Linked DNA regions of Homo sapiens. The protein of the gene in region 2 purifies or fractionates together with the protein of the main gene of each other region. This does not show direct contact. Each region holds a gene or a part of one and is shown on either strand. Other genes may lie near its edges.

Evidence for each region.
Region 1: the proteins of ELAVL2 (region 2) and IGF2BP3 purify together in Homo sapiens (co-immunoprecipitation; 3 studies listed by BioGRID and IntAct, with this or other methods). This does not show direct contact.
Region 3: the proteins of ELAVL2 (region 2) and RBM45 purify together in Homo sapiens (co-immunoprecipitation; 3 studies listed by BioGRID and IntAct, with this or other methods). This does not show direct contact.
Region 4: the proteins of ELAVL2 (region 2) and POLR3H purify together in Homo sapiens (co-immunoprecipitation; 3 studies listed by BioGRID and IntAct, with this or other methods). This does not show direct contact.

What each region holds. Positions count from the first base shown.
Region 1 is NC_000007.14:23,467,256-23,475,021, forward strand, and holds the start of IGF2BP3 (insulin-like growth factor 2 mRNA-binding protein 3), read right to left. Parts: upstream 3,237-7,766; 5' UTR 2,856-3,236; coding exon 2,681-2,855; intron 2,393-2,680; exon of another isoform or gene 2,321-2,392; coding exon of another isoform or gene 1,981-2,320; intron 1,288-1,980; coding exon 1,227-1,287; intron 1-1,226. UniProt on the Homo sapiens protein: RNA-binding factor that may recruit target transcripts to cytoplasmic protein-RNA complexes (mRNPs). This transcript 'caging' into mRNPs allows mRNA transport and transient storage.
Region 2 is NC_000009.12:23,697,137-23,704,776, reverse strand, and holds part of ELAVL2 (ELAV-like protein 2), read left to right. Parts: intron 1-3,172; coding exon 3,173-3,398; intron 3,399-7,640.
Region 3 is NC_000002.12:178,122,231-178,129,870, forward strand, and holds the end of RBM45 (RNA-binding protein 45), read left to right. Parts: intron 1-1,291; coding exon 1,292-1,421; intron 1,422-1,597; coding exon 1,598-1,682; intron 1,683-1,896; coding exon 1,897-2,060; intron 2,061-3,753; coding exon 3,754-3,946; 3' UTR 3,947-3,954; intron 3,955-7,128; exon of another isoform or gene 7,129-7,166; 3' UTR 7,167-7,426; downstream 7,427-7,640. UniProt on the Homo sapiens protein: RNA-binding protein with binding specificity for poly(C). May play an important role in neural development.
Region 4 is NC_000022.11:41,534,341-41,541,980, forward strand, and holds part of POLR3H (DNA-directed RNA polymerase III subunit RPC8), read right to left. Parts: intron 6,456-7,640; coding exon 6,359-6,455; intron 1-6,358.

The DNA.
Region 1 (7,766 bases), on a different chromosome or scaffold from region 2:
GAAATCTACACAGGCATACAGATGAGATGTTTTGTAGCCATCTATTTCTGCACAGCACCAGAGAAATGCATAGCAAACCCTCCTGCTCTCCAGCACACACTCTCTCACCAATATCTAACCAGATACACGCAGCCCTGATTTAAATTAACTTTCAGCTTATTATTTGGCTCAGGTTGGGAGTTGGGGGGATGGGAGAGGGGCAGGCAGAAACCCTAACCCCACCATGCAAAATCCAGAAAGGCTTAGAGGCCCACCCCGGTGCGACTGGGAGGGAGCAGTGCCTTTCCAATTGCAGTTAGAGCCGGAATCTATGGTGTGAGTTGGCTGAAGGTTTTAAAAAACAAAACAAAACAAAAAAATAGAGCCGGAATCCGGCCTGCTCTAGCGAAAGGAAAGGAGTCTCCACTGCTCCATAAGGCTTCATAAGAAAAAGAAAAAGGGAAAGAGCCATGTCTCCAAAATGCTTCAGAGGCTAAAACAGTCTATAAACATTCTGTAAAGCGACATACTACACACATGATCTCGGAGACGAGAAATCCCCGTCCTTAAGTAGTACGAATCTTCCTGTCTTCATCTTTTGGTGGTTGTAAGCAAAAATGTACCCAGGAGGAGTGGGGTGGAAAGCGGGGAGACAAAGGTGCTGACTGCAGGAACCTGTAGAACTTCGGAGTGACTCAAAGGCACTTCTGGGCCAGAGAGGCCCCAGCGTTTACGCACGCGTTCCAATACCCCTGGCGAGCTCACAGGGCAGAGGCAAATTCCTCTCCACTCGGCCGCGCCCACGGCCTCCCAACCCCGGACAGAGAAGGAAAGGAGGGACCCCCGCGTGTCCGCAGCTGCTTTCGCCTCTCCTGCTCCTGGAGGGGTGGGGGAATCATCCGCTGCTTCCCAAGCCCTGCAAACCCCCCAAACTGCTTGTTGGGACCCATTTCCCGTAGGAGCAATTTGACCCGCTCGGACCGAGGACATTCAGCTGTGAGCTTTCGAGAGATTTTGTAACCAATAACCATAATCCCGCGGCAGAGGCCACAGAAAAGCTTTCAATTCCTGCCCAGCATCATCAACACACACACCCCCGCCATAAACTTAAAAGCAAGGATTAAAGACCGGAACACCACGCCACACGGCAGGGGGTAAGCACCAGAGGACAAGAAGTTCTCAGCTGAGTCTCTCCACCCAATAACGGAGTGAGAACAGAATCGGGGCAAACAGAAGCAGCAGCTCACCTTTGCCTTTTTGGGACCGAGTGCTCAACTTCTATGGGTTTCCCGTGCAGTTCTATTTTACCTGCGGACACACAAGAAGTGAGACGGTCGGCCGAGTTCAGCGGCTCTCCCTGCCCGAAGACCCGCACAGCCCAAGCGGCGACACAAATGGCCTCCTGAGGCCCTCGAAGGGCCCCCGAGGCCCGGACGCGGCTCCAGGCGGAGGGAGAAGCCGACCCCCTCGAGCGGCGTGGGCATTTAACTCGCAGATGGTTGGGGAGCAGGGTCCGCTGGCGGGCCCACTACTTGGGTATCAGTCCAGTCTCCAAGCCTCCCCCACCCACCCCTGGGGGCCACCAACACCACGAGGCCCGCAAGAGGGACGCGGCCCACCCTCTCACCGCCCTGGACACGCTCCACAGGGCAGACTCGGGGCAGGGGGCTCCCCTGGCTTTCTTCAGGAGGGGGCGCCCTGGCCCTGCCCTCTGCTTCAGCCCAGACCCGCCGGGAACACTCAGCGGTGGGCTTGAGGAAGACAGGGAGTGGCGAGAAAGGGTCGGGGACGGCAGGGGAGACCACGAACGGGAGAACTGGCAGAGGCGCAGCTCGGCACAGGCTGAACCAGGCGCGAAGGACGGCGAGGCGCCCGCACCACGTCTGAATTGATTAAAAGGGAAGCCGAAAGGCACGGGGCTCCCATGGGGACCCCAACGCAGCCTTCCCCCTGGGCGTCCTGCTCCGCCCGGCACCGTCCCTCGCCCTGGCGGAGCCATACCCGGAGGCCGCAGCCCCGCGCCAGGGCCCGGAGAGCGGCGGGCGGCCGGTGCGTGGCGGCGACTCCCTTCCAGGCGACCAGCCGCCCCCGCCCACCTGCCCCTATCGCTCGTCGGACCAGGGGAGGTGGAACGGGGAAACCGGGCACACACTCTCTCCTCCCACAGGGTGGGGAGGAAGCGCGGGGCCGCCTGTGCGAGGCACCAGCCTCGCGGTCTCACTCGGCAGCACGGTCGAGGCCACTTTCCGTTCTCCACGGCCGGGGGTTTCGGGGCGCAGCACAGACAGCGCCGTAAATAACGACCGAGGAAAGCAGGAAGGAACGAGGCACAGGCGGGCATTCTAGCTCGGCCCCCGAGGCCCAGCGTGCCGGGGCCTGGAGCACGCGCCTGGGCCCGGGCGGGGCGCCGGGGGAGCGCGCCTCCCCCAGCCCCGCGCCCCCCTTAGCCAGCGCCGGGGCTTTCTTGACAGCGCGTTCGCCCTCACCCAGCAAACCCCGGCCGGGGAAGCAGAGCCGCGGGCCGGAGTGGGAGCCGGAGCTGAGGAGAGCCCCGGCCCCCACGCGCGTGGGTGTGGGCGCTCAGGCCTCACCCCCGCTCCCCCAGCGCGCCGGGCCTGGGGCCCGCGGAGCCACCCGGTGGGCCTGGGCGGGCGGTGCAGGGCTGGGGCGAGAGCCCGGGTGGGGCCAGGCCCGGGCCCACCTGAAAGCGCCTCGATGGCCTTGAGGGCCCAGCTCTCGTCCGGGCAGTCCACGAACGCGTAGCCAGTCTTCACCAGGAAGGGTCCCGACACCGGGATCTTGGCGTCCTTGAAGATACTTTCTAGGTCCGAGGGGGCGGCGTTCTCGCTGAGGTTTCCGATATACAGTTTGTTCATTGTGAAGAGTGGTTGTTTAAAAAAAAATAACGAGAAAAAACGAAAAATTAAAACCACCCACGGTGATGGATGGATCCAGCTGGTTTTGTTCCCCTCGTCTTCTCGCCTTTAAAATACACAAACACAGTAAGAACCAAGCACAAGAACGAGGAGTGAAAAATCAGATCCGAGGCTTGTTTTTTCCTTGTCTAGATGTGTTTTAAAAGAGAAAGAAAAGAAAAAGCCTAGCTACAACCCAAACGCATCCACCAGTCTTCCTAAGTCTTAGGAGGAGGCGGGATTAGCAAGAGAAAGGAGGAGGAGGAGGGGAAAAAACTACTTTTTGTCTCTTCCTTCCCAACCCCTTTGGCTTCGGCCAGCGGACTGTGAAAATATCACACTACGTGAGGCAGGCGCCGCCTCCCCATAAAAAACCCAGAAGGGTGACTGGCAGGAGGGAGGGGAGAGGAGGAGGAGGAGGAGGGAGGAAGGCGCAGGAGGCGGAAAAAATCCGCTCCGAGTGTCCGGCTTTTTGAATGAGCCACGTGTTCAAACTACAAATCAACGTCTCACGTGAGGAATCCCAGAGCCTCAATTAGAGTGGGTTTCGGAGAAAAAAGCGAGCGAGAGGAAGAGGGGGAGGGGAAACGAGATTGGGAGAGGGACTCTGAGAAGGGGGAGGAGGAAGAAGGAAAATGCTAAAGGAACCGCAGCCGGCACCAAGCGGGGCGCTGACGGTCACAACTCGAGTTTGTAAAGGGTTATCTGGTCTGGGCGGATCCTGGGAGGGAGGGCTGGAATATTGATTTTTTTTTTTTTAATGAGGAAATGGGCAGAGGTACTAACAGGCAGTTCCTCAGCGCTAGTTACCGTAGTTTTAATCATTCGATTTTTCAAAATAGGTTATTAACAACAAAACCAGAGTCACAATCCCGAACTCGCCTGGTGGCTTTAATGGCATTAGAAGTGTAACCCCAGCAAAGCCGCAGGCACGTTTCTAAGGCTGGCATGGACGGAAATGCTGCGAGGAGGGGTGGGGGAGTGGGTGAGGGGGGCAGGGGGTGGGGGCAAGACAGGCGGGCGACGCGCCCCACCCCGTGCGCCCTTCTCGGGCCCTGGGCACCGCGCGAGTGGGGGCGGCCCGGCCCCGGAGTGGTGGGGGATGGGATCCCGCAGCGTCCTGGGCGGGTGTCTGGGCGACACCTCCTCCGCCTCCGCCTGCGCTCGCGGTGGCTCTCGGCTTCGCGTTTGCCATTGGTTGCGCGATTCAGAAAAGGCTCCAGGATAAATGAGGCCGGGGGCGGGCTTGGCCACTGGTGGGGGAGGGGAGTGCAGGGGCGGAGGTTTCTGGCTAGGGGCTGGGGTCGTCGGGGGCCTGGGCCGCTGGAGGAGAGAAGTCAAAGTGGGAAAAGTCGGTAAAGGGAAACCCTCTCTTCCTGTAGTTTTTAAAGGGGGAGGAGTGGAGTAGGCTGGTACTTTTATTTAAGTAATTTTAGTTGGAGAACTTGAGACTTAAAACTGGAAGACCGTCGTGCATTACCCCTAGGTGGTATTCGCATTTGAAAAATTGTTCGAGTCTCTTTCTGCCTCTTTTCTGCCTGGATTTGGCCATGAGAGCCATACATAATTTTCTCTATATGTAATGAGTACAATGGTGGTTGTCGGGGGAGGATTTGGGCCCGGTGGAGCCTTGTGGGCCAACAAAATGTGAACTGGAGACGAGCAATACGGAAACGAAGGCAGTGCTGGGGTTCTAGTGGAATCTCCAACTGTCGTTTAAAGATTGTGTACTCCACTCAAAGGTTTCATTTGCACCAGATACTTGTGTGTTTTTAACAGGTATATTTTTAACAGGTATTCTATTGAAAAGATAGAAAATTCTAATTTTTTAAGTGAAAGAAATTCTATATAACATGAAAATATAGACAAGAATCTTTAATGACTTGGTACTCTTACTGGTAGAAAAAAGGTATCCTGAATAGAGGAAATATTATGATTTACACTGGAAACATCTTCGGTAATTGATACAGCCTTGCTTCTCTGTCAAAACCGTTGTTAGCATTTTAAAATGTGTATTTTTCATTTAAAAGATGAATGGTAGACTTAAACATGGGAATTGTTGCATGATATAAAGAGTATTTACATTTTGTCTTTTAAAGGGAACTTACTTTGTAATTTTGTGTTAAGGAACCGGAAGGTGTCAGATCATCCATTTTAAATGCAACTGTTCTTTCTTACAGGTTTTTCTTTCCTGCCAAGCGAATCCAACATTTTAAACGTAAACACACTTTCACAATAATTTCATTCACGTTTAATTTAATAAAATGTTGTTACTTTATAAAATAGGGGGACAGACGTGTTTTTCTGTTACAGTATTTGTAACTGAATTAAGAGCTCAGCCTTGAAAGAACGTTTTGGTAAAATTTTTCTTTAAGTTTATGGTTAGGTTGAACTTTTTAAAAGCATTTTTTTCTTTTTTTAAAAATAACTTTAGTTCTAAAGAAGAAATGTATTCTTTCTTTTGGCCTCTGTGGTATGCAAAATGTAAATATCAAAAATTATGGATTTATTTTAAATGTACCTGTTGTAGAACAAAAGCCATTTGGAGAAATGTTCTACATTCATTCATTTGGTAATATTTGCACTTCTCAATACCACTGTAAATTTTACAACCTGTTGATCATTTAACACTTTTAGTAATTTTTCATAAAAACAAATTGTGTGTGTTCAGCTTGCTTCCAAAATCAATTCAACTATGGCTTCTGGGTTGACTGTATTTGCTCTTATTAAAACTGAGACCTAAGGAAATATCTACTTCTAAAGCATGGAATAAATTGTTTATTTTCCATAAATACTAGTCCATGCTTGTCTGGCACTATCAAACAAATCTAACAGCTGGAATTTAAAACAAGTGTGTGTTTTGATGAAATATGTTCCTGGGACTCCTGTTAACCTAATCTGTGTATTATTGTAACAAACTGGATAGTCCATCTAGGACCTTAAAAACATACATGAGTAATACAAGCTCAGACATCAAAGAGAGAGGTGGATACAGTCCACTCCACTTCCAGTCTTCCAAGCATTTAAGGGTTGAGTCAAAAGATCTTAGGTAGTTGTCTTGCACTAGCACTTCAAGTACAAAGATACCTTTGGTGAATTTTCAAGAATGAATATAAAATCAATTTAAGTTCCAGTTTTTTTTTTTTAATGACTCTCACACAAATCAACTGGTTATAGGCTACTTCAGCTTCTTCCTGAAGCAGTTGTAGCTCCTAATTAATGTGAACTCCACGAAGAAAGAACTCCCACCATTTTATGTGCTCTGGGATGCGGCTGAGTCTTTCCAATTGCAGTCTGTTTACTCTTTGGACAGCTGCATCTCCTCCTTATCTGCTGAACTGAGGACTGTACAAATGTTTCTTGTGGGTCAGTGTAATATTAAAGAATAGCTATGTTTAGAAGGCCAGTTACCGTTGCTGTACCCACACGTCAGGGGCAAAGGCTGAGTGGGCAGATGGGGGGCTGCCACCCCTCCTCACGCCCGGCTTGGGACCAGCCTGGAGTCTCAAGCCGAAACCCCTCACGCGGGTGGGCACACAATGCCCGGCGTGTCGCCTGGGCCTCCTCGGAGGTGCTTTAACAGGCTCTTGCGCTTTTGAACGGCCCTCCTGGACTCTGATCTGTTTAAACTAGAGGCGTTAATAAGTGATAACCTGGATCTGCCCTCCTTGGAAGCTGCCTGCCTATATTTTATTGTTTAAAATAAATAAAAATGGTGCCCCGGGAGAGAAGATGGGGTTGTTTCCTTTTTCCTCTGGCTCTGCCCCGAGAAAGAGGGCGGGATCCTCACGGCTCACAGTGGGGAGGGTCTTTCGTCGGCCGCCGGCTCGCCTCGGAGGGCCTGGACCACTGGACCGCCCTTCCCCGGGGCCCTGCCGCGGGACCGCGGGCTTCTGGCTCCTCCTGGGGCTGCGTCCGTATGCGCGGAGCGTGTGGCCGGGCCGTCGCCGCGCCACCCCACCTGAGTCCGCCGGCCAGCGCGGGGACGCACCGGGCAGCGTGTGTTTGGCGACCCTCCCGCACCTCTGGTCTCAGTTGCGTGTGTGCACGAGGGGTTCCATAGGGCCCAGGGATGCTTGGTACCCACGGGGGAGAATCCCTCGCCGAACCCTGCGGGTCTGCGGGGCGGGCCGCGAGACTGGCGCGCAAAAGCGGCTCCAAGGCGGGGCTCCCGCGCTCCCCGGGGCCGGCTTGCCGAGTCCAAGTTGAGCAACCGGCGTCGAGAGAGACACCGCCCCTGCTGCGGGCGGGGGCCTCTCCTCGCTTCCGATTGGCTGACGGGGGGAACCTATCGCCGTCGGCCGCCTCCGCCAGAGCGGTTTGCTGGTTTTCATTCATTGGCCCCGGAGCCGCCCCTGGATTTCCATCTTTTGTGGCGCGAAAATAACCCTTTGCTCCCTCGTTGGTTTTGTTGAGGTTGAGGGGTGGGACTGTGTTCCCCTCTGCTCGCTCTCGTTTTTCCTGCCCTTTAACAGCTCGCCCCCAGCCCCAACCCCCAAGGAAGAAAGAGGGAGGTAACGCTGAGGAAGGGTGGAAAGCAGTTCTGCGTCCGTGGGTGGAGCCCGCCCCTTGGCTGACCGCATGGTGCCCGCACGGTCCCTTCCCTTCCCCCAGCGTCCAGCGCCCGGAGGTTCTGGATTTGCGCCATGCTCAGCAGCTGGAGTCACATCTTCGTTTCCCTGCCCATTTCCAACATCTTAGAGTTGATGCGTCCTTTTTTACTTAAAACAACTACAACCAACCATGTTCTCAGGTACCAGAACTTTTCTGGGCTTCTAGAGAAATCGACTCGCCCTGCCCGCTCCCTTCCTAAACCCCTTTGTGGTCCACAGGGTTGTTTTAAGCAAAATCAAACAACCCCTCCAAAAAAAG
Region 2 (7,640 bases):
ATTGTTCATAAATATGCATGGATAAAAATAGATTGTGGAGTATAGTGAGCGTGCTTGAGTCATTTCCACCCTGAAGGTGCAGGATTGAAGCCTGTTTCATGGCTTGTAATAAATTTATAGATGCTATAATCTTCATTTCCAAGCCACTGTGTGATAAAAGCCCCCATCCTGCTTATAGAGTACTAATAAACAACCTTTCTTTTGTCAAAAAGCGAAGTTTAATGCAGCGGTATGCAGCTAGTTCTCCAAGGGAGGATTACACTACATCCACACTGGTAATTGCTGTTCAGGCTGTTTTCCAGGTTCATGCTGTGCTGTATGGGCATATGTAAGAGTTTGAAATTTTGAATGTTAAAAATTTATTTTATTCCTAATATCACTGTTAGCCCAACTGAAATGGGAAGACTAAAATGTTCATTAAAACTCTTGAATGTAAGGGAGTTGTTCTGCCAAATCTTAGTTAACAAAGCTATAGCAATATAGATTTGATTATGAATTTTAAAAATAAAATACAGATACAATTTTCTATTATAAAAGCAATACTTGGCCAGGCACAGTGGCTCATGCCTATAATCCAAGCACTTTGGGAGGCCAAGGAGGGCGGATCACCTGAGGCTGGGAGTTCAAGACCAGCGTGACCAACATAGAGAAGCCCCATCTCTACTAAAAATACAAAATTAGCTGGGTGTGATGGCGCATGCCTGTAATCCCAGGTACTCAGGAGGCTGAGGCAGGAGAATCACTTGAACCCCAGAGGCGGAGGTCACGGTGAGCTGAGATCATGCCATTGCACTCCAGCCTGGGCAATGGGCAACAAGAGCAAAACTCCATTTCAAAAAATAAGTAAAAAATAAAATGAAAGCAATACTTGTTCTTTAGGAAACAGTTAAAAAATAGAGAAACATTGTGAGGAGGAAATATTAGCTGTAGTACCATAGACTGAAGCAGCCACATGAAGATTTGTGAGGTTGTTTTTGTTTGTTTTTTTAAGGTAGCTTTTCTCCTCACTGTTTGTTTCTCTCCCCGCCACCCGTATAATAATAATACCTTGGAGGCATGTTGTATATTACAATGTCTAATTCTTTTAAAGCAGTGACTTCAGAAGAAAATTGAGCCAGATTTTTCATTCATCAAGTGAAGATCCATTTAGTTGATCTGAATCTAATCAGAGGAGCCCATATTACCTGCCTCTGTGTTGTTAATTGGCTTCATAGGAAGCACCACCTTTAGAGTTCTGAGTAGAGAGAGCTAGCACTACATGCATGCCTGGGAGAATAGCCTACAGATTTTGCTGTCATGAGACTATTTAGTCAAGTGAGAGTATATAAAATACAGCCTCCTTAATTGTGTTAGTTAATTCATAATACTTATACATTGCCACCCTGTGTTGTTATCACATAGACTAATAATGGTGTTAAATAGAAATCCAGGCCTAGAAATAAAGATGAATTTGTTCAAAGCAACAAAAATATTTTTTATTTCATTTGTGCTTTCTAATTCATTCATTCTGAGATCTTGTGAATTGAGAGTAGGTTTCACCTATGACACAAAGTGCGTCTCATCTTTTACCTGCTAGTCCATCACAGGTGGACCTAGCTTGTTTTAGTCAGCGGTTCTCAAGTATGTCCCGCACCTGCAGTATCAGCAGTCTTCTGGAACCCTGCTAAAAATGCAAATTATTGGGCTTCATTCAGAACCTACTGAATAAATCTCTGAGGGTGAGCCACAGGTTGTTCTTAGGTATGCTTAAGTAGGAGGACCACCGATTTAGGTGACTCTAGCTGTGTAGAGGCTGTTTTTTTTTTTTTTTTTTTTTTTTTTTTTTGCTAATCTGATGCTTTTCTAATGGAACAGCTAAATTCTAGAGGTTATTAATTCTTAATAGGCGCTAGTAGATAAGTGAAAGGATTTGCTATCATTTCACTATTTATTCTTCATACTTAAGGCTTTCAAAGTGAACTTACTCAATTTACCTGAAATGAAAAATGAAACCCTGCAATTTTCTTATTCAGCCATCAGGTGGTAATAATGTGCAATGCATGCTCTTTAAATAGAAAAGGTAAAGTGATAGGGGCTGTCTTAGATACGCATATGTGGAAAAAATGCTTTGTCTACATTAGAAAATTCTTAGTCATTGACCTTACACAGTATTAATTTTAAAGCAAGTAGACCTTCTTTCTTTTTTTTTTTTTAAGCTCCTCCAAGTATGATGGTCCAGTGCTCATTTACTTGCCAAAAAAAATTTCCCTGCCACTGCTTATCTCATGATGACCAGCTGTGGTCACCCCACTAGCCTGTTCACGCTAATTAAATGGAATAAGCTGGGTTTCCCTCTACAATTTTTCATAACCTGGAAAGGTTCTTGGCTATCCTTTCCCATTTGTGTCTTTCACACTGGGGAGAATGTGGGGCAGGGAGTGATCTTCTGTAGTCAGGAGTGATGCTGCTGAGGTCAGAAAGCTTTGATGCTTTACTTCTAGAAATTTATTTATTTTTAAAATCTACGTCTTTTCTTTTTCTCCATATAATATTTTTCTGTAATAAAATATAGCTAGTCAGAAGCACAAGAGAGCTTCAGAGAACTGGAAGAGCATTTTCAGGCATTTTTTTCCTAAAGGACCTATATCCTATGCAATATTATTAAGCTGAATATATTATTTAAAATTTCAACCGAAATGTCTTTCTACCACAGTGTATGTATTTTTAGCATAGCTTTGTAGCATTTTTAGCAAATTCTTCTTTCTGTTCTCCTTGTTTCAAGGACAGGAACTACTGTGTCCCTCATTTCTGAGCTGCTTATCCAATAGCACAAATTGAAAAATGGAACTCCGGTACACTATTGACATTAAAAGAGTGTACGGGAGGGAGGTGGGAGAGAGAGAAAACATGGACATGCTTGTGTTTTCTTGTCTTAGCTGATTGGAATGCATGTGATAATGGGTACTCAGATTATGTAAGTGACACGAATTTTTCTAAAAATGCAAAATTGTGATTCTAAACTGAATGGCTAGTAAGTAAAGGGGAAAGTTTCCTCCTGGTGTGATTTTGTGGGAAATGTTATATGTAGGTGAAAACATGTTCTTGAGAAGGAAAAATTAATGTGTCCTTTCTTCTCTCCTTCCCTTCTCCTTCTGTTCCCTCTTTTCCAAATCTTTACTCAAATCTACCATAGGCATATCAAGGGGTGTAGGGTTTATTCGATTTGACAAGCGAATTGAGGCAGAAGAAGCTATCAAAGGCCTAAATGGCCAGAAACCTCCCGGTGCCACGGAGCCAATCACTGTAAAGTTTGCTAATAACCCAAGCCAAAAAACCAATCAGGCCATCCTTTCCCAGCTGTACCAGTCTCCAAACAGAAGGTATCCAGGACCGCTAGCTCAGCAGGCACAGCGTTTTAGGTAAGTCTGGTTTGGTTCTTGTGCCCAGCTACTAAACTGAAAGAGAATACTCAGGTTTACTGTCCAGTACTTTTATTGACAGGATCTCTGGTTTGCTTTTGTCAGTGTTGTTGGTTTTATTACTATTAATTTTTCATCTCCATGGGCACAGAGAGAATCTACTTGAGGAATAGTGTCTTTTGCTAATATTGAAGGTGGGGACCAAAGGACAGTAACCTACAGCAGTGATTCTTAACCAAGGGTGATTTTTGCCTCCCAGGGAACATTTGGCAATGTCTAGAGGTATTCATGTTGGCACAACCTGTGGGGGTGCTACTAGCATGTAATGCTAGAGGTCGGGGATGCTGCTAAGCTCCTACAGTGTACAGCATAGCCCCAGCAACCAGAAGTTACCTGGTCCAAAGCACCAATAATGCTGTGGTTGAGAAATTCTAATCTGTAGCTTTCTGGGGTTATCTGAATTGTTTCCAGGGCTTCAGATTTCCTTTTTTTTTTTTCTTAAAGGATTTTATTCTCATGTGTCAATTTTTAGGTCAAGCTGTTTCTGTTACTTCACTTTATAGTATGTGCACCATTAAGGGTATATAACCTATGTGACTACGTGAAGTTTCTACAAATGAGTTCCTCTCTTCCTTTTCAAAATTGTTTACAAACAGGTTGGCAGACTTTCTCTGTACAGTACCAGATAGTAAATATTTAACTTTATGGGTTATGGTCACTGTTGCATCTGTCTTGTTTTTGTTTTTAAACAACCTGTTAAAAATGTAAAAGCCATTCTTAGCTTATAGCCCATACAGCAACAGGTGGGAGGCAGTCTCCATTTGGCCTGTCGGTTGTAATTTACTGACCTCTCTGTAGTTCATAGAATGACCGTGGCTTTAGCCCAAAGAAGACACTCTATCTCACTGACAGGTGTACATATGCTAACTGTTTAAGTTTTATTCTGATCCTGGGATAACAAACCAGGAGTCATTCAAAAAATCTCTAATCTGCATGTGAGAAGAACAGTGACTTTAAGAAGTTAAGCAGAGCAGAGAGTTTTTGGTTTCATAAGCAAGTCATGCAGTTTTTATTTTCCAGGACATTTTTAAATATCCTTTTTGGCCATATGGTACACTATACCCAGAATGCTATCTAACCCCACACTGATTTTTAAAAATTATTTCCAAGTGCATATCAATTTTATTTATTTCATTCATGGGACAGAATAGTTAATTACCAAAAATATAATCACAAATATAACCTAATAAGATCAGGAGTTATGTTTTCTAGCTTAAATCTATGCATTTATTTTTTTCATTGGAATATTTGCAGTGCTGAAGAGAGTGGAGATAAAATCAGTTAAAAATAGCTCCTTTTAAAAAAATACTAAATTATGTTGCTTGAGATATGAGAAGGAAATTTGTTATGAATGCCACATTAAATTTCAACTTAAGTTGGCCTTTGCCGTGGGAGAAGAGGTGGTACTGTCAAAAGCATTGAGCCTTGTACTTCATGCTCTGCTGTGAGGAAAAGGCATTGGTATTAAAAAAAAAAAAAAAAAAAAAAAAAAAAAAAAAAAAAAAACCTTTGCCACCTTTGACTTCCCATGGTAGTGGTGATCAGACTAGTGTGGGAGATGCGTGGGGCTGCCTGATGCTTGCCTTTGTGGAGAAAGAAGTCTCACAAAGAAAGCCCTTTTTCAGCTCTGCACATAGGTTTCCTCTGTGACATCTTAAGTGAATAATATATGTATAAATATACTTTTTTAAATTGCAAACGTAGGATGAACAAGCCTGAAGGAATTTTACAGGTATTTCCTAGGCAGCTTGTCCAGTTAATTTCAGAGCTCTTTGGGGCCTTGAAAATGATCTCGAGTTTAGATAGAACAAAGTTCTTCATAATGTATTGGTTGATTTTTAACATTGTGAAGTTATAAAATGTTTGCTGTTAGTGGAAAGCTATATTAGCTACTTTTTTTTTCCAGATTGAAGCAATGATTTTGTTTGATAGTTATTAAGTAAAACAAAGTTCTTGGAATCAAGATTGAATTCTTAGGAAGATTGAGAAGACAGGATTTGGGAGAGTGCCTGATTATTGAAATGGCAAGGCTTGTAGGTGACTCAGGTGCTAGGTTGTTGATGGGTGTCAGCCCTTAGGTTTACCTAGCCTCCATCCCTGCAGGCTCTGTGCTTTTTATTTTTGGTTGAGTAAAGCTTTACAGGATGTTCTTATGGTCAAATTTAATTATCTTTTTCTGGCCCATTCTGTGTTTTTATCTTTTAGTACCATATGTTATCATTAACTTGAAAATTCTTTTTCCTTCACTCCTATAGAAAGACATTTTGGAAGAAGAGAATAAGAGATTGTCAGTTGTAAGGGAAACTTGGTTTCAGAAAATGGGAGAAATTGTTATTCTCTCTTCAGATTTTTAACTGTTGTCCCATTCACCCCATTTCTCATTCCTCCCATGATCCCTGTCCAGATAATAAAATATGAACGAGTTAGTGTGCTCAGAGATAGTGTTTGATCTAGATTGGGTGTGTTGGAAGAAATCAGATTTCAGGTTTAACCTGATGTTTGATGCTTTTCTTTAATACAGTATATTGAACCTGGTTGTCATTATCTTGATTTCCGCCCCACTCCCCCTTCTTCTTTCACCTGATAAAGAAACTTGAATTAAGGGCTTGCTTGTTTTGTTGGTATTTTGCTGTTTTCTGTAGTTCGAGTCTAAATCATCACACAGATATATTTTGTCCCTGATATTTGTGTTTTAATGCTCTTGCCTTGAGTTTTTGTCACCTTTCAGCAGACATGTAGAAAATTTCTCACTGTATTTTTATGTTCTCATAGTACCTTGGGAGTTGAGAGAGATTGAGCAATATAAGTTATATGTATTATGGTCAAGAATACTTTTAATAATCATAAAGTATGAGCCATATCTTTTATGGTCAAAAAGCTTAAAAATCCATGTAATAAGGGTTAAGTTTAAAGGTGGGTTTGTGAGGTTTATGGCTTAGTCAATCTATGAATAATCAGAGAATTGTTGTAATATGAGCACTGCTGGTCTAATACGCTTATTTAATTGACTGCAGTTTTCAAAATAGGACAAGCCTTATTTATTTGGATGGATGGTGTAATTCAAGCCCCTTAAGTATATTCTTGGGACATGATATCAGAATTAAACTTTAAGCCAAATTTTTTCATGTTCTTTTCTGTGAAACAGCTATAATTTTATTGAATATGATCTAGTGTAATGACCTGTGTGCCTGCTTCTATGAGCCTTTATGCATTTTTTAAAAAGCCTTTTAAATGAGCACTTGAGTTGCCTTTAAGGCATGACGTACTGGTTGCATTATCACAATTTCCTTTTGGAAGAAACCGGTATCAATCCCCTTGAATACTTTTCCTCTTTCTTAGAGGACAGATGATACCATCTAATTGAATAAGGCAGTAAGGCAGTAAGAAGATGATCTTGTTGTAGATAATTTCCAAGCAGTTCTCGGTTGGCGCTTTGGAGAGATTTTGATAATCATTATTTGTGGGATTCCGAGTATATTTTCTTACCCATCAATAACTTATCTTCCTATTTTTATTTCTGACTTTAATCGGGTTCACATTTCCCCTTACTTACATGTAGGCCTTCCCATAGTCCATCAGCTAATTTTTTTAGAAATTAGGCAGGTACTTTATTTTTATTTTCTACTTATGAACACCTAGCTTTAAAATAGGAATGATCTGATACATGGTTCTGTTCAAAATTTTGACAGGTTATAATTGGAGCTTTGGTCCTGTTGATAGAAAAATGTTTATACACATCTCTCTCCTATGTGCCTTTTTCATAAATTACATATGTACATGGGCGTGTGCTATTCATTAAATTATAAACTCTAATCAAACATAAAAAAGGATAAAGATGAGACAATCTGTATTAAATGTCTTGCTAATTACTATACTGGTTGGCTTCATTTTCCATGTACCTAATATCTTAATAAATGTCTTTTAAAGCAAGACCATAAAATAATTTCAGATATCTCATCTGACTTCATGTGATGCATGTTGGATTATCTTGTGTCTAACCTTATAATGTAGCTTGTACTAAGAGTAGGAGAAATAATCGGCTCTCCCTTTCCTTATTTACTTGTATTTCCCTTACTGGTACCATTCTTTACTCTGATTTACATTTGTAGTAATCTTTTTTTAAGTTACTTTTTCTTTAAATGGAGGTCATTTTAATTAAAGCAGGTTATCCAGTCTAATCCT
Region 3 (7,640 bases), on a different chromosome or scaffold from region 2:
AGGGGTTTTTTTTTCTTTGTTAGTGAGGGGTGGTAGAGAGAAATCATACTTGGTTGGCATCTCTTCCAGTTTTGTAAGGATACCTGATTTAGTCCTTTTAGAGTGGCATGGCTATTGACATAGAAGTAGTGACGTGAGTTTGGTCATGTGGACCAACAGGACTAAGGTAACTCCACCCTTCATACAGACACCCCCACATACTCACTAGTACCCAACCCAGCACTAGTCTTTTTGTAGAACTGTCTTTGAGCCATCCCCAGTCTTAACCCGATCATATGCGTCATTCTCTGTTCTAAGACTTCTAGGCACACATTTTTGTGTTCTCTGGCACATTTGTTATATGCATATGAAGTTGTGTTCATTTTGTTTTGTTCCCTCCCTTTTATCTGGTATGTCAAAATGTATTTGTTCCTGTACCTCCTGTTTTGTTTCTCTGGTTGGATGTGTCTGAAATATATGTGTCATTGGAACATCTTTTTATTAATAGAGGTGTCATCATATAGTTCGAATCTCATTTGAATTAACTTTATATGGTCATTTGATTTCTGTGTTTTATTTTAATTTCATTAAAATGTTGGATGCTTGGGTTTCCAGATGAACATAAATTATAAGTGTTTCCCCAGTGGTTTGTATTATAAAAGTGAAAACCTTTTAGTTGTGTCACAAACTCCTGGGCTCTCTAAGGAATGCATTATAACATTGTCCCTCCCTTCAACATCACCCTCCTAAATTGAAATTCGTCCCTTTGGCAGAAATCTCTCCAAAGGAAAGTAAAATATATCACTTGTGATCTGAGATCCTCTGTTCCCTATCTTTTTGTTTTTCATTCAAATCACTTTTCCTCTCCCTACTGCTGCAGATAGCCGGGATGAGTATATATTCTTTTCAACTATCACTTCTCATTTCATTTCCTACCCAGTATGGTTGGGAAAATCTTAAAATTTCAAAGTAGATTTCAAAGAATAAAAATTTAGACTTTTAAGTATATTGGTATCATATAAGAAAAGCTAGTATCCTAAAACTAAACTTATTAGACAGGACGTATGTTAATATTCCATTTTCCCTAAAATATCATGTTCATATTTTTCCCTAAATTATTTCTTCCTTTTCTAGGAATACACCTGTTGCACACATGATAACAGAACTGTGTTTTCTGATACATTCGATTCTGTATTTACTAGTTGTGTGATATTAGAGTTCTACATGGTTTCATTTTTGTGATAGATTGTAACATAGGCCTTAGGCACTCAGTCTGCTTTCCTTTTTCATTTCTGTATGTTCTCTATTTTAGGTCATGGAGTGGTTCAGTATTTTAATGTAGCATCAGCTATTTATGCAAAATACAAATTACATGGATTTCAGTACCCTCCTGGGAACCGAATAGGTGTTTCCTTCATTGATGATGGAAGTAATGCAACAGAGTAAGTACCATTCCAGGAGTGTCTAAAGCCGAGCTTTGAGTGTACATGATTGATAGGACTTGAAGAATAAAAATAGAAACAATTGACCTCTCAGGTGAGAAAGTCACACAAAACAAGCTACTGTTAAAAGACTGAATATTTTTAGTTTTCTGTAAATTATCAGTTATTTTTTCCAGTCTCCTTAGAAAAATGGCAACACAGATGGTAGCTGCACAGCTTGCATCAATGGTGTGGAATAACCCAAGTCAGCAACAATTTATGGTAAGTAGGTAAGAATTTAACCTTTATAATATATCAATAGCATATAAAATAAATGTGAAGAGAAATCATGCTTTGTTGATTATCTGTGTATGAAAATTTTCAGAGCTATTGTGGAAGACCACATAGATGCCATGATACATATCTGTCTTTAGCTCTTGGCCAAAAATCCCTAAAGGGCATTTTTTTCTTTTTCTTGTTTTCTACCTGTTAACAGCAATTTGGAGGAAGCTCTGGATCACAGTTGCCTCAAATCCAGACAGATGTTGTACTTCCATCATGCAAAAAAAAAGCTCCTGCTGAAACTCCTGTGAAAGAAAGACTTTTTATTGTGTTTAATCCTCATCCTTTACCTTTAGACGTATTAGAAGATATATTCTGGTAAGAAAGTTACATTTTTTGTTATATTTTATTTACACTAGTAATTTAATTATTCTTATAATCTAGACACTTCCTTCACCCAGTACCTATCAAGTAGAGAGTATTAGTTCTCTGCTTTTAAAACCTCCTTATTTGTATCATCTTTTTCAATTTCTGATTATTTTCTTCTCTTGTTTATCAGTCACACATCCTAAGGCTCCATAGAGAATTTCCTGCTATTTTGTTTTTGAAACATAAAGTGGGCCTGGTGCAGTGGCTCATGCCTGTAATCCCAACACTTTGGGAGGCCGAGGTCAGGGGATCGCTTGAGCTCAGGAGTTCAAGACCAGACTGGGCAATATGGCAAAACCCCATCTCTACAAAAAATACAAGAATTAGCCAGGCATGGTGGTACATGCCTGTGGTCGCAGATACTTGGGAGGCTAAGGTGGCAGGATTGCTTTTGCCCAGGAGGTCGAGGTTGCAGTGAGCCAAGATTGTGCTACTGTACTCCAGCCTGGGTGACAGAGTGAGACCCTTTTTGTTTTTTGTGTTTTTTTTGCTAAGCATCTTCTGTTTTGTTGGTGCATTGTAGGATCCTTAAGGGTTATGCAGTCGCATTGTGTAAACAATTACTTGATTGTAGGGAAAAATACATAAATGTTTTTTATAATAAAAAAGGGAAGGTTCTTATTTATTTTTGTGTTTTTAACATAACTCCTTTCTTTGCTTTTTCTTTTAGGCCTTTTTCCCATTTGCCTTACAAGAATGTTAGTGAATTTGATAGACAGGAAGCTTGTTAAAGAGCTGCACAAAATATCAGGGACATAATGTGATAGTATATTGAGGCTCAAAAGGAAAAAAATATCAGGATATGGTTCAAGTATTTTGACCTTTATTTAACTGATATATTTAGTTTTCTTCTTGAACCTCCTCTTTGTTCAAGGCAGGAACTGTGCTAAGTACAAGAGACATGTAAACAAAATATTAAATGGACAAGACATTATGATTCTTGTCCTCTTAGAGCTGATCTCATGTAGGAAACAGACAAGTAAACAGAAAATTACAACCCAGGGTGATTGTTGCTGTGATAAGGAATGTGTAAGATACAAAGGAGGAGCAGTTACCTTAGAAACTCTGAGAAGCCTTGAAAGAAGGAAGGTGTATGTGGAGACCTGAAGTATAAAAATAATTTCTCCACAGGTGAAAGCTGGGGGTATGCATGGTTATTTCTGCCATAGAGAATGTAAAAGAAGGGCTGTTAAATAGGGAATTTGAGAGATTGTTAAGGAAGATGAAACTAAAGAGTCCAAGGACAATGTCAGAACGGCTCTAGAGCTATATTAAGGAATTTGTTGTCACCATGGAGGCAATGGGGAGCTGCTGAGGGGACTTTTAGGGAGTAAATGATCATATTTATGTTTTAGAAAGATCACTCAGAAGACAGAGTGAAAAATGGATTGAAGAGGGACAAGCTCAGGGGTAAGGAAACTAGTGAAAAAGGAGTTAGATTAAGGAAAAGATGATGGTCTGAATGAGAAGAGAGATCTGAATGAGAATGAATAGAATTGACTGAGATGTTTAAGATTGACATGAGTTGGATGTTGGATCTGGGGAGAAGGGTGAAAATGGAGTCAAGAATGGACTCCAAATTTTAGACCTGAGCAGTTGTATTTATCAATTTTGGTTGATTATTTTTTTCACTTTGTTTCAGTCGTTTTGGTAACCTGATCGAAGTTTACCTTGTGTCAGGAAAAAATGTGGGGTATGCCAAGTATGCCGATAGAATAAGTGCTAATGATGCCATTGCCACTCTACATGGAAAGATTCTGAATGGGGTGAGACTTAAAGTTATGCTGGCAGATTCGCCAAGAGAAGAATCTAACAAACGGCAAAGAACTTACTGATTCTTGAGGTAAGCCCTTTTTAATCTGAATTTTAAAACATATTGAGTAAATAGTATATGAGGAATATGTGTAAGTACTTTATAAACTTTTCTTTTTAGTGATTTAGAAGTTGTCAGTTAAAAGAGCTTTGCAACTATTTAAACTTTAAAAATTGTTGACATTTACTGAAGAATGTTTTTGCCCTTCTGTAAAATAAAATCACATTTCAATTTAGAAAGATAAATAATTGTTTTTTGTTTGTGAAATCTTCGATTTTAAGAATTCAACTTTTTATTATGTGCTTATATAAACTTTTAAGTTGTCCGGTGCTAGAATAAGGATTGCTTTAAAAAAAAATTGAAATACTTCTAAAGATTTTTAACTTGAAAAATTGGTGTCTTGAGTTATGAATTGAGGTAATTTATAACAGTCGTTTATAAAGATAATGTTTTGACTTCTCTCTAATGAAATGCCTAAAAAGCAATATCAAATAATATATCATTTTTGGACCTTTTGAACCTAAATGTTGGTGTTTTCTGGACTTGTATTTGTGAGTTTGTGCATTAAAACAATACATTCAGAAAATATTCTCGTATGCATATATGTATTTTTTAAGAAAACCTGACAATTTACCAAAAACTCTTTATTGTAAATTTTGATACATACAGCCATATGAATTCCATTTCCTATTTTATTTATTAGTTTTCAAAAATCAAACTACAATTTATTTGACTGTGACAGTGAGTTTATATCTGTGTGGTTTGGGGAAACATTCCTTAAAGTTTGACTTTTTTTTTCCCCCGAGACGTCTCGGTCTGTCACCCAGGCTGGAGTGCAGTGGCGAGATCTCGATTCACTGCAACCTCCACCTCCTGGATACAAGTGATTCTTCTGCCTCAGCTTCCCCAGTAGCTGGGACTACAGGCGCGTACCACCACGCCTGGCTAATTTTTTGTATTTTTAGTAGAGGCGGGGTTTCACCGTGTTTCGATCTCCTGACCTCATGATCCGCCCGCCTCGGCCTCCCAAAGTGCTGGGATTACAGGCATGAGCCACTGCGCCTGGCCTAAAGTTTGGCGGTTTTTATTCTGTAAAATAATTCTGAATTTCAGGGGAAGCCGTTTTCCTGTTCCCACACACTAACTTTCCAAGTCTACTATAGGTCAAATGTAGTAGATGGCAGGCACTTTGAATTCAGTTTGAAGTTACTGGCTTGAAACCTTTATTTTTTTCACTTAAGATTTTCTTTCTGACCAATTGTGTGAGCTAGCACGTATGAGAATGATTCCTGCCAGGCCTCACTGCTGATGACCCTTCCTCTCCTAGAACAGATCACATGATTAGTTCCTCCTTCATAGCTTCATAGAAGGCATTTGACAAGAGAAAGTGCCCATTGGGCCCATAATCCTAATTTTTAAATCTTTTTAAATGTTTTATTAAATGACAAAACCACTCTCATTGTACCATACATTGTTAGCAATTTAACCCTGGATATATTAAATTGGGAGTGGAAAAGAATTAGCAAGCATTTTTTCCTGTTTATGGATAAAATGTTAAGAATGAATTCTGTTTGGAGAAGCTATTCTCTAGCATGCAAAAAATGTGTTTTTTCTAGTCTGTGAATATTTCAATAATAGGAAATAAATAGTTCTTGCTTTTACTCAATAAATCTTTGTTCTTAAAAAGGACAATAATATAGACTTTAGACTTCTCAGTATAGAAAAGTATATAAATTATTCTTGTGGTTGAACCTTTTCTAATGATTATTTACATGTTAAAGAGAATATTGGGCTTAAAATAAAAAGCCATTTAACTGTGACTGGGCTGGTCTCTACGCCCTTTTTTTTTTTTTTTTTTTTTTTTTTTTAAACACAGAATCTTAGTCTGTCACCCAGGCTGGAGTGCAGTGGCCTGATCTCAGCTTACTGCAGCCTCTGCCTCCTGGGCTCAAGCAGTCCTCACAGCTCAGCCTTGCAAGTAGCTGGGACTACAGGCATGTGCCACCATGCCCAGGTAATTTTTTTTGGTAAGACAGGGTTTTGCCGTGTTGCCCAGGCTGGCCTTGAACTCCTAAGCTCAAGTCATCTGCCTTCCTCGGCCTCCCAAAGTGCTGGGATTACAGGCATGAACCACTGCGACTGACCCTCTTTGCCTTTTTGAGGCCCAGTTTTCTCATAGGGCTTTTGAGAGACAATGAGTCAACAAAATGTAAAATGAAAAAAAGGCTTTGCAAGTCTAAACTAAAACTCTTGCATTTGTAGCTTCAGTGAAACCTTTGAGATGTCCTCTTATCTAAAATAATGACATCCAAATGATCAGAAACTAAAAGTATAATGATATAAAACTACCTTGTGGCCAGTTGGTACTGTGAGAACTAAGCTTTATAAATACCACATTTTTCCCTTAAACTCATCCAATTTCCTACATCAGAGGAATTGCATTTTCAGCATGGCTGTTCATAAAAATTTTAATCTATCATTTTTCCCTTTTTTGAACTGTTACGCATATTCAGGGCAGAGATAAAATAGGGTCAGGTTAGTTGAAAATGGCTGTTTGGATAGGATACGATTAGCTACACGGTTTTGAATTTCTTCTAATTGCAGCATGGCTTTTTTTATTTTTGCTGCGGATCTCCTATTTACAATGGACTCCATTATGAGATTCTTCTTCTTTGTTGGTGTATTAAATAAACATATTACCTTATTTTAAGTTTCGATAAAATACTGTGGAAGACTTTGCCAAATTTTATATGATTGTGACAAGTTTTTTGGGGTAGGTGCACTTTTTTGTTTGTTTCTTTAATTTTTAAAAGGCTGCAAACACAGCTCATGAAGGCTGGTTTCTTTTATCTCTGAGGTATGGGCCTGGGATTAAGTGAGTCATGCCTAGGAAATAGAAGCAACTGATCCAAGGATATAACATTGAAAGTAGTTGAATTCTATTTTGAGATGGGTCTGATAACCACAATGTAATTCTCTTTCTATTTGAGGAAAATATAAATTTTAGTATTTCAGAGCATCAGATTTTTTGTTAATTCACAACACTTTCCCTCTAGAAATTCAGCACCTGCATCGCCCTTCTTAGTAAGTTTGGTTTTATTTGGGGGCAGCTATGATTAAGCAGATAACATTGGGTATATTGAAATAAAGGAACAATTCCTAACATTTTAGGAATACTACAACAGCTATTTCCTTTCCTTTCAGGTGATGATTTTCATACTTGTGTTGTGTTCTTTCTACAGAACAAAGACTAAATAATGACATAATCCTCAGCTGACTGACTGAAAATGTGACTGGACGCATTCCCTGTGGACAGTTGACAGCTTTTTTTTTTTCCATATACCTGATAGTCTGTGTACAGCATTGTTTTGTCTGGGAAGCAGGGATTGCTGACATGTATTTTTGAATCCATACATTAATGCTAAAACGAATATAGTAGTTGTTCCTTAGAGCAATATGTTGTTACGTGTAGCAGAAATAAAGTTTTCTTTGCTTAACTAAATCATGACTTATTTATGTGAAAGACAAGAACGGAAAAATTTAATAGACAGTCTTTAGAATTTGACTAAATGACATATGTCATTGATTTTGAGATGCACATCTTTCACATTTTAACACCCCTGAAAGTAGAAGCATCTCAATATCAGTTGTATGGCATAGTGTAATCGACAACCTTATTTTCTTTCTTAATAAAACATGAAAAGGTGCTTTTTTCA
Region 4 (7,640 bases), on a different chromosome or scaffold from region 2:
ATATTATGCAGCCTTACAAAGGAAGGAATTCTGACATGCACTACAGTGTGGCTCAACCTCGGGCTGAACCTTCACATGGGGCCAAGTGAAAGCAGCCAGACACAAAAGCCACACAGTGTGCGACTCCATTCATGTACAGTGTCCAGAACCACATCCATAGAGACAGAAAGCAGTTAAGTGGCTGCCAGAGGCTGGGTGAAGGACAGGATTAGCAGTGACTGCTACTGGGCGGGGTTTCTTTGTAGGGTGATAAAAACGCTGTGGAATGGCCCCGCGCACGGTGGCTCAAGTCTGTAATCCCAGCACTTTGGGAGGTCGAGGCGGGCGGATCACCTGAGGTCAGCAGTTCAAGACCATCCTGGCCGACATAGTGAAACCCCGTCTCTACTAAAAAAATACAAAAATTAGCCAGGCGTGGTATTGGGTGCCTATAATCCCAGCTACTTGGGAGGCTGAGGCATGAGAATTGCTTGAAACCAGGAGGCAGAGGTTACAGTGAGCTGAGACTGCGCCATTGCACTCCAGCCTGGGCAACAAGAGTGAAACTCTGTCAAAAAAAAAAAAAAAAAAAAATTGTGGAATTAGATAGTGGTGATGGCTTAGCTGATGAGGGTGTTGTTCCTGGTGGGAGGGGGCCCTCTCCTGCCCTGCTCATATCTGCCTACTTACCATAACCCCTGGAGGCCTGTGGTGCCAGTCACTGTATTCCTCCATTCCTATAGTTCCTCCAAACTGGAACTTGCATCTAGAATTTTTAACAGATTCAACTCCTAGCGTTTAGCAACAGAACTGCCTCATAATCGGTGTTGAGTTCTTCCACCAGGAACTATATAATGCTTGTTTGTCTCTCTTTGGGGGAAGCTAAAAAGTTAATGATCATTGATGAGATCTGTCTTCATAAGGAGTTGCAAAATGGTGATAATGTAATTAAAAAAAAAAGATAGTGGTGATGGTTGCACAACTCTTAATATACAAAGCCACTAAATTGTATGCTTTGAAAGGGTGAATTTTGTGGTATGTGAATTATATCTCAGTGAAAAAACAGAAGGACACAGAGCAACAGGCTGGTCAGCCAGGAGAGTGCTGGATCTGCAGTTCATCTCACAAGAGCCCCACCTGGAGGTCTAGGGATGTGTAGCCTGCAGAGGGGATGCCTGGAAAGTCAGAAAGGATGAGTCTAAAGGACCATCAAGAAGAGGAAGGAAGCTGGGCGCAGTGGCTCACGCCTGTAATCCCAGAACTTTGGGAGGCCGAGGCGGGCGGATCACTTGAAGCCAGGAGTTTGAGACCAGCCTGGCCAACATGGCAAAACCCAGTCTCTACTAAAAATACAAAAATTATTAGCTGAGCAGGCCGGGCGCTGTGGCTCACGCCTGTAATCCCAGCACTTTGGGAGGCCAAGGCAGGATGATCCCCTGAGGTCGGGAGTTCAGGACAAGCCTGATCAACATGGAGAAACCCCATCTCTACTAAAAATACAAAATTAGCCGAGCATGGTGGTGCATGCCTGTAATCCCAGCTACTCGGGAGGCTGAGGCAGAATTGCTTGAACCCGGGAGGCAGAGGTTGCAGTGAGCCGAGACTGCACCACTGCACTGCAGCGTGGGCGACAGAGTAAAACTCTTGCATTTTTTAGAGACAGGGTTTTAGCATGTTGCCCAGGCTGGTCTCGAACTCCTGACCTCGTGATCCGCCCGCCTCAGACTCCCAAAGTGCTGGGACTACAGGCATGAGCCACCATATCTGCCCCGTGAAAAAGTTCTGGAGGTGGGCCGGGCGCGGTGGCTCACGCCTGTAATCCCAGCACTTTGGGAGCCCAAGGCGGGCGGATCACGAGGTCAGGAGATCGAGACCATCCTGGCTAACATGATGAAACCCCGTCTCAACTAAAGATACAAAAAAAAATTAGCCGGGCGTGGTGGCGGGCACCTGTAGTCCCAGCTACTCGGGAGGCTGAGGCAGGAGAATGGCGTGAACCCGGGCGGCGGAGCTTGCAGTGAGCCGAGATCACGCCACTGCACTCCAGCCTGGGCGACAGAGCGAGACTCCATCTTAAAAAAAATGAAAGTTCTGGAGGTGGATGGCGGTGAAGGTTGCATAAGAATATGAATGTGCCTAATGCCACTGACTTACACACTTAAAATGTTTAAATTGGTAAATTTCATGTTATGTATATTTTACCACAATAGAAAAAAATGAAATAAATGATAAACATGTCAAAAAAGGTTTAAAAAAAAAAAAAAGGCCAGGCGCAGTGGCTCATGCCTATAATCCCAGCACTTTGGGAGGCCAAGGCGGGCGGATCGCCTGAGGTCAGGAGTTCAAGACTATTCTGGCCAACATGGCAAAACCCCATTTCTACTAAAAATACAAAAATTAGCCAGGCGTGGTGGTGGGCACCTGTAATCTCAGCTACTCGGGAAGCTGAGACAGGAGAATGGCTTCAACCCGGGAGGCAGAGAGGTTGCAGTGAGCCAAGATGGTGCCACTGCACTCCAGCCTGGGTGACAGAGAAGACTCTGTCTCAAAAAAAAAAAAAAAAAAAGGCTTTAAAAAAAAAAAGGTGGGGGGTGTCTCTGCACCAACTCTAGCTGAGGAGGCTGCCCGATTTGCAAATCAATATAACATTTAAAAATGTTAAAAAATAAATAACTAAAGGTGGTCACAAAGGAGCGCTGCTCTAGACTGAGAGCAGGGCCCCCGATCAGTATGGGGCAGGCGGGGGCAGGGTACAGCAGGTCCCAGGCTTGGAGGATGTGGGGAACACGGGCTGGCACCAAATGTCGAGGGATAAACTTGGCCAGTGGGGGTCAGGGTCCCATGCCACAAAGGCCATCATCTGTGAGCACTCCCCACGTGCGGGGCGCTAGACCACAGCTTCACTCAGACTTGCTCGTTGACTCCTCACAGATATTTGATGAAGGAGGAAGGCTCTATTACTGTTATTATACTGTGTGCACAGATAGGGAAACCGAGTTTCAGAGAGGTCAAGCAACTGCTCCCAAGGCCCAGGCAAATAAATATTCCTCTGAGCAAAGGTGAAGGCACAGCATGACCTGGTGCTGAGCCCTTCAGCACTGGCTCAGTGACAGCCCTGAGTGAGGCTGTGGGGTTGCAGGAGAGGGAGCAGTGGGAACAGGGCCTGGGGTCAGGCATCAGCCTCAAAGCATGGCAATTGGTTCCCACCACAAAATCACAGTTCACCCTGCATGGTGCTCAACAGGACTTTTATAGCTGCAGGGTTAACCCCATTGTACAGAGGAGGAAACCAAGGCCGAGAGAAGCAGAGGTACCCGCCCAAGGTCCCCATCCAGGAGACCAGAGCCAGAATTAATTCAAATCTAGGTCCTTGTGATCACTCCATGCCTCCCACCTGGTTCCCAAGAAAACAGAGACTCAGGACAGATGAGGGTGGGGGCTAATAAAAGCCAGCAGTAGAAATCTTCCAATTGAATAGACAGAATTTCCTCCAACTTTTTTTTTTTGAGACGGGGTCTCTCTCTGTCACCCAGCTGGAGTGCAGCGGCGTGTTCTTGGCCTCCTGGGTTCAAGCGATTCTCCTGCCTCCACCTCCACCTCCCAGGGAGCTGAGATTACAGGTGTGTACACCACCAGACCTGGCTAATTTTTTTTTTTTTTTTTTGAGATACAGTCTCACCCTGTCGCCTAGGGTGGAGTGCAGTGGCACAATCTCAGCTCACTGCAACCTCTGCCTCCTGGGTTCAAGCGATTCTCCTGCCTCAGCCTCCGGAGTAGCTGGGATTACAGACATGTGCCACCACACCCAAATAATTTTTTTTTTTTTTTTTTTGAGACGGAGTTTCACTCTGTTGCCCAGGCTGGAGTGCAGTGGTGCGATCTCGGTTCACTGCAAGCTCCGCCTCCTGGGTTCACTCCATTCTCCTGCCTCAGCCTCCTGAGTAGCTGGGACTACAGGTGCCTGCCGCCACACCTGGCTAATGTTTTGTATTTTTAGTAGAGACAGGGTTTCACCGTGTTAGCCAGGAGATCTCCTGACCTCATGATCTGCCCGCCTCGGCCTCCCAAAGTGCTGGGATTACAGAAGTGAGCCATCGTGCCTGGCTTTTTTTGTAGTTTTAGTAGAGATGAGGTTTTGCCATGTTGGCCAGGCTGGTCTAGAACTCCTGACCTCAGGTGATGCACCCGCCTTTACCTCCCAAAGTTCTGGGATTACAAGCGTGAGCCACCACACCCGGCCGCAACTTGACTTTTTTCTCCAAGTTTTTCTGGAAGTTCTAGTACCTATTACCACTTGTCTCCTGGACAACCAAGGCCCCTGTCCAAATGCGGAGACTGGGCTCAGCTCGGCATCCTTCTCTGTAAACAGAGGCCCTCGTGGTTGTTTTCACACTGCAATCTTATTTCTCTGCTAATGAAAATGCTCCTAGTCTGTACAAAGACAGCCTGTTTCTTCGGCCTCTCGGCGTACCATGGTAACATCCATGCGAACTAATTAATTCCCTGAATGGCTGGACACAGACACTAGGCAGTCTCACAGCATACTCTGGAATGTTCTGGCATCTCTGTGCTGAGAGGCTGACCAGTATGGACTACAGCAGGGCTTATCCAACATGAGCTCGTGTGACAACCACCTGGTACCTTGTTAAAACAGTCTTTGGGGCTGGGGGCAGTGGCTCACGCCTGTAATCCCAGCACTTTGGGAGGCCGAGGTGGGCGGATCACGAGGTCAGGCGTTCGAGACCATTCTGACCAACATGGTGAAACCCCCTCTACTAAAAATACAAAAATTAGCCAGGCGTGGTGGCACGTGCCTATAATCCCAGCTACTCGGGAGGCTGAGGCAGGAGAATTGCTTGATGCTGGGAGGTGGAGGTTGCAGTGAGCCAAGATCACACTTCTGCACTCCAACCTGGGCAACAGAGCAAGACTCTGTCTTAAAAAAAAAAAAAAGTATTTGGACCCATCCCCCAAGATTCTGACTCAGGCGGAGGGAGGCCTGGGGCAGGCTGAGAATTGCGCTCTGAGTGCCCAAGGGATGGCAGGCTTGGCGCCTGCGCTCTGGGAGCCTGAACCGTCTCAATGGGCCTCTCACCATCTCCTATACACTGGTTTGGTCCAGACATGAGAATGAAGAATGCCCCTCTCCTGGGGCTCATCACCTCCCTTGACTGGTGGTCCTGGCTCCTCTCAGGGTGGTCCTCTCTCTACTCCTCCCTCCTTCCAGGATCTGGTGATCACCTTCCATTCCTGGATGCACACCCTTTTGCAATGTGACTGCAGTTTCTCCCACCCAGAGGTGAAGTCTATTTCTCCATCCCCTCACCCTAGCCAACGGGATGGAAGCAGAGGCTTGAGAAGTACTTACGCACTGAACTTTGGAACCTTAAAACCGCCAAGCCCAGCCTGGCCTACTGAAAGATGAGACCATGTGGGGCAGAGATGGGCCAGCCCAGCCCAGGCCCCCAGTAACCAACCAGTCTGCCAACCTTCAGAATGTGAGACCGTCCTAGATTGTCCAGCCCCAGGCCAGCCAGATGAGAGGAAAACCACCCAACTGACCGACAGAATAGGGAGAAACAATCCACGCTGATAAGTCACTGAGTGCTCGTTAGGTGCCAAGGCTCTGTCCTAAGAGCTTTCATGTATTAACTCCTTAATCCTCACAATGGTCTTAGAATATAAAATCTATCCTAAACTGCAGTTGACATCCTGAACTGCAACTGACAGATAAGGAAGCAGAGGCACAGAGCAATGACATATTCAGCCAGGACACACAGCTAGTAAGAAGCAGAGCTCAGCTTTTAATCTTGAGGCCACACTCTTACCTACTGTGTCCTACTATCCAAGTCCCCCACCCCCAGCCAGCCTGCTGATCCCCCTTCCGTCTGCTCTCCACAGGCAGCGGGAAGCCCGAGGAATGGACAAGGTGCAGGGCTCAGTAGCAATGAGACCAAAAGGGCACAGACACAGAGCTATGAAGTCAGAGCTGAAGAGGCCTTGAAAACCAACTAGTCCACATCCCAGGCCTCACAGATGAGGGAACAGAGGCCCAGAGAAGAGAAGTCTGCCGCTGTCACCGGGTCAATTCCTGGCCGATTCAGGATGAGGCCCCACGTCTCCCAGCCTCCAGGACTCCCACCACCCTCTGGCCATCTCTTTGACTTTAGCCTTTTAAAATTTTTTCATATTTTATTTATGTATTTAAAGACAGGGTCTTGCTATGTTGCCCAGGCTGGCCTTGAACTCTGTGGCTCAAGAGATCCTTCCGCCCTCAGCCTTACAGGCACGCACCACTGAACCTGGATTTGGCTTGACCTTTGGCTACAGAAAACTGAGCCCCAAGAAGCCCAATGCCCCAGGGACAGAAGATACCCACCTTTGGTGTGTGATGCGCCATCCCCAGGGAATACATAGGCATCCTCCAGTTTGGTGATATCAAACAGACAAATGCAGAGTCCCACGTTGTACACGACCTGCATGCATACAAACACAGACACACAAGTACACATGGATACAGAGTGACCACAGGCCCAGCTCCCAGGCAATCTGAGCCCCTCACAACCACAAGCAAGCCATGATTATCTCCTTTTTTAGGTGAAAATGAGTTTGTGGAGGGGACCAGGGTAAGGAACCTCAGAAGGATGCAGAGCTCTGGAAGGAGCAGGGCCTCGGGTGACAAAACAGGTCCAGGTTCCAAGGCCAGCTCCACCACCCACTGTGTGACTGCCAAGAGGGTCACTTCACCTCTCTGAGCCTCGGTCTCCCCATCTGCAAATGTGAAATACCAGGCTGCAGAGTTATAAAATAAAGAGAGATAACAGATGTGAAGCCCCTAGCCTTGTACCTGGCTCGTGTATTGGAAACCATCATCATCAAGGATCTTTGTTATTACTAGTGAGGACCAGTGACAGGAATGCTGCCTAAACGTGCACTCTCCGACATCCCAAAGCCAATGCCAGAGCTCACAGTTTAGTGAGCGTCACAGCCACAGCTAAACCCCACTGTGCTCACAACATCTCAGACACACAGACGCAGCCACAGGGACTGCAGCTGGCAGAGGGACACAAGACCTAGGCCCCAAGAATGTGCAGAAATCCCATGCCCTCACCCCACACCACTGTGGTTCAAACGACTGGCTACTCAGTGTCTCCTTATCTGCCACCGTGTCATCACCCCCACTTAGAACCCTTGCAAGAACTGTCCAAGAATTAGCAAGAAGCTCAGAGAACTCAGAGTCGTGGCCAGACCTCACCAAGATAATGCCACAAGATCTGTGCCCTTTGTCAGACCATGGATTTCTGTGTGGGCCCCCTCTCAAACGATTCATCTAATCAAATACTAGAAGACTTGTCCCAACAGGACCTCTACCCCAAAGGGACTATATTCCCTTCTTGGACTTTCCACACCTTCTCTCTCAAGGTCCACACCTCCATCCCCCAACAGACCCTCATCTTCAACCTCACAAAGTAACCAGAAGCCATCCACTTAAAGACTCCATGAGTTCCCTTCACTATCTAGCAACCCCCAAATCAACCTCACCTCTTCTGAAGGGACCTGTCTCATGCGTAAAGCCAGCTAAGCATCCTCTTTCTGGCTCCTTCTCAGCCCATCACCTTCTGATGCTCCACGGATAAAGACCAATACCTCAACTCCGACAT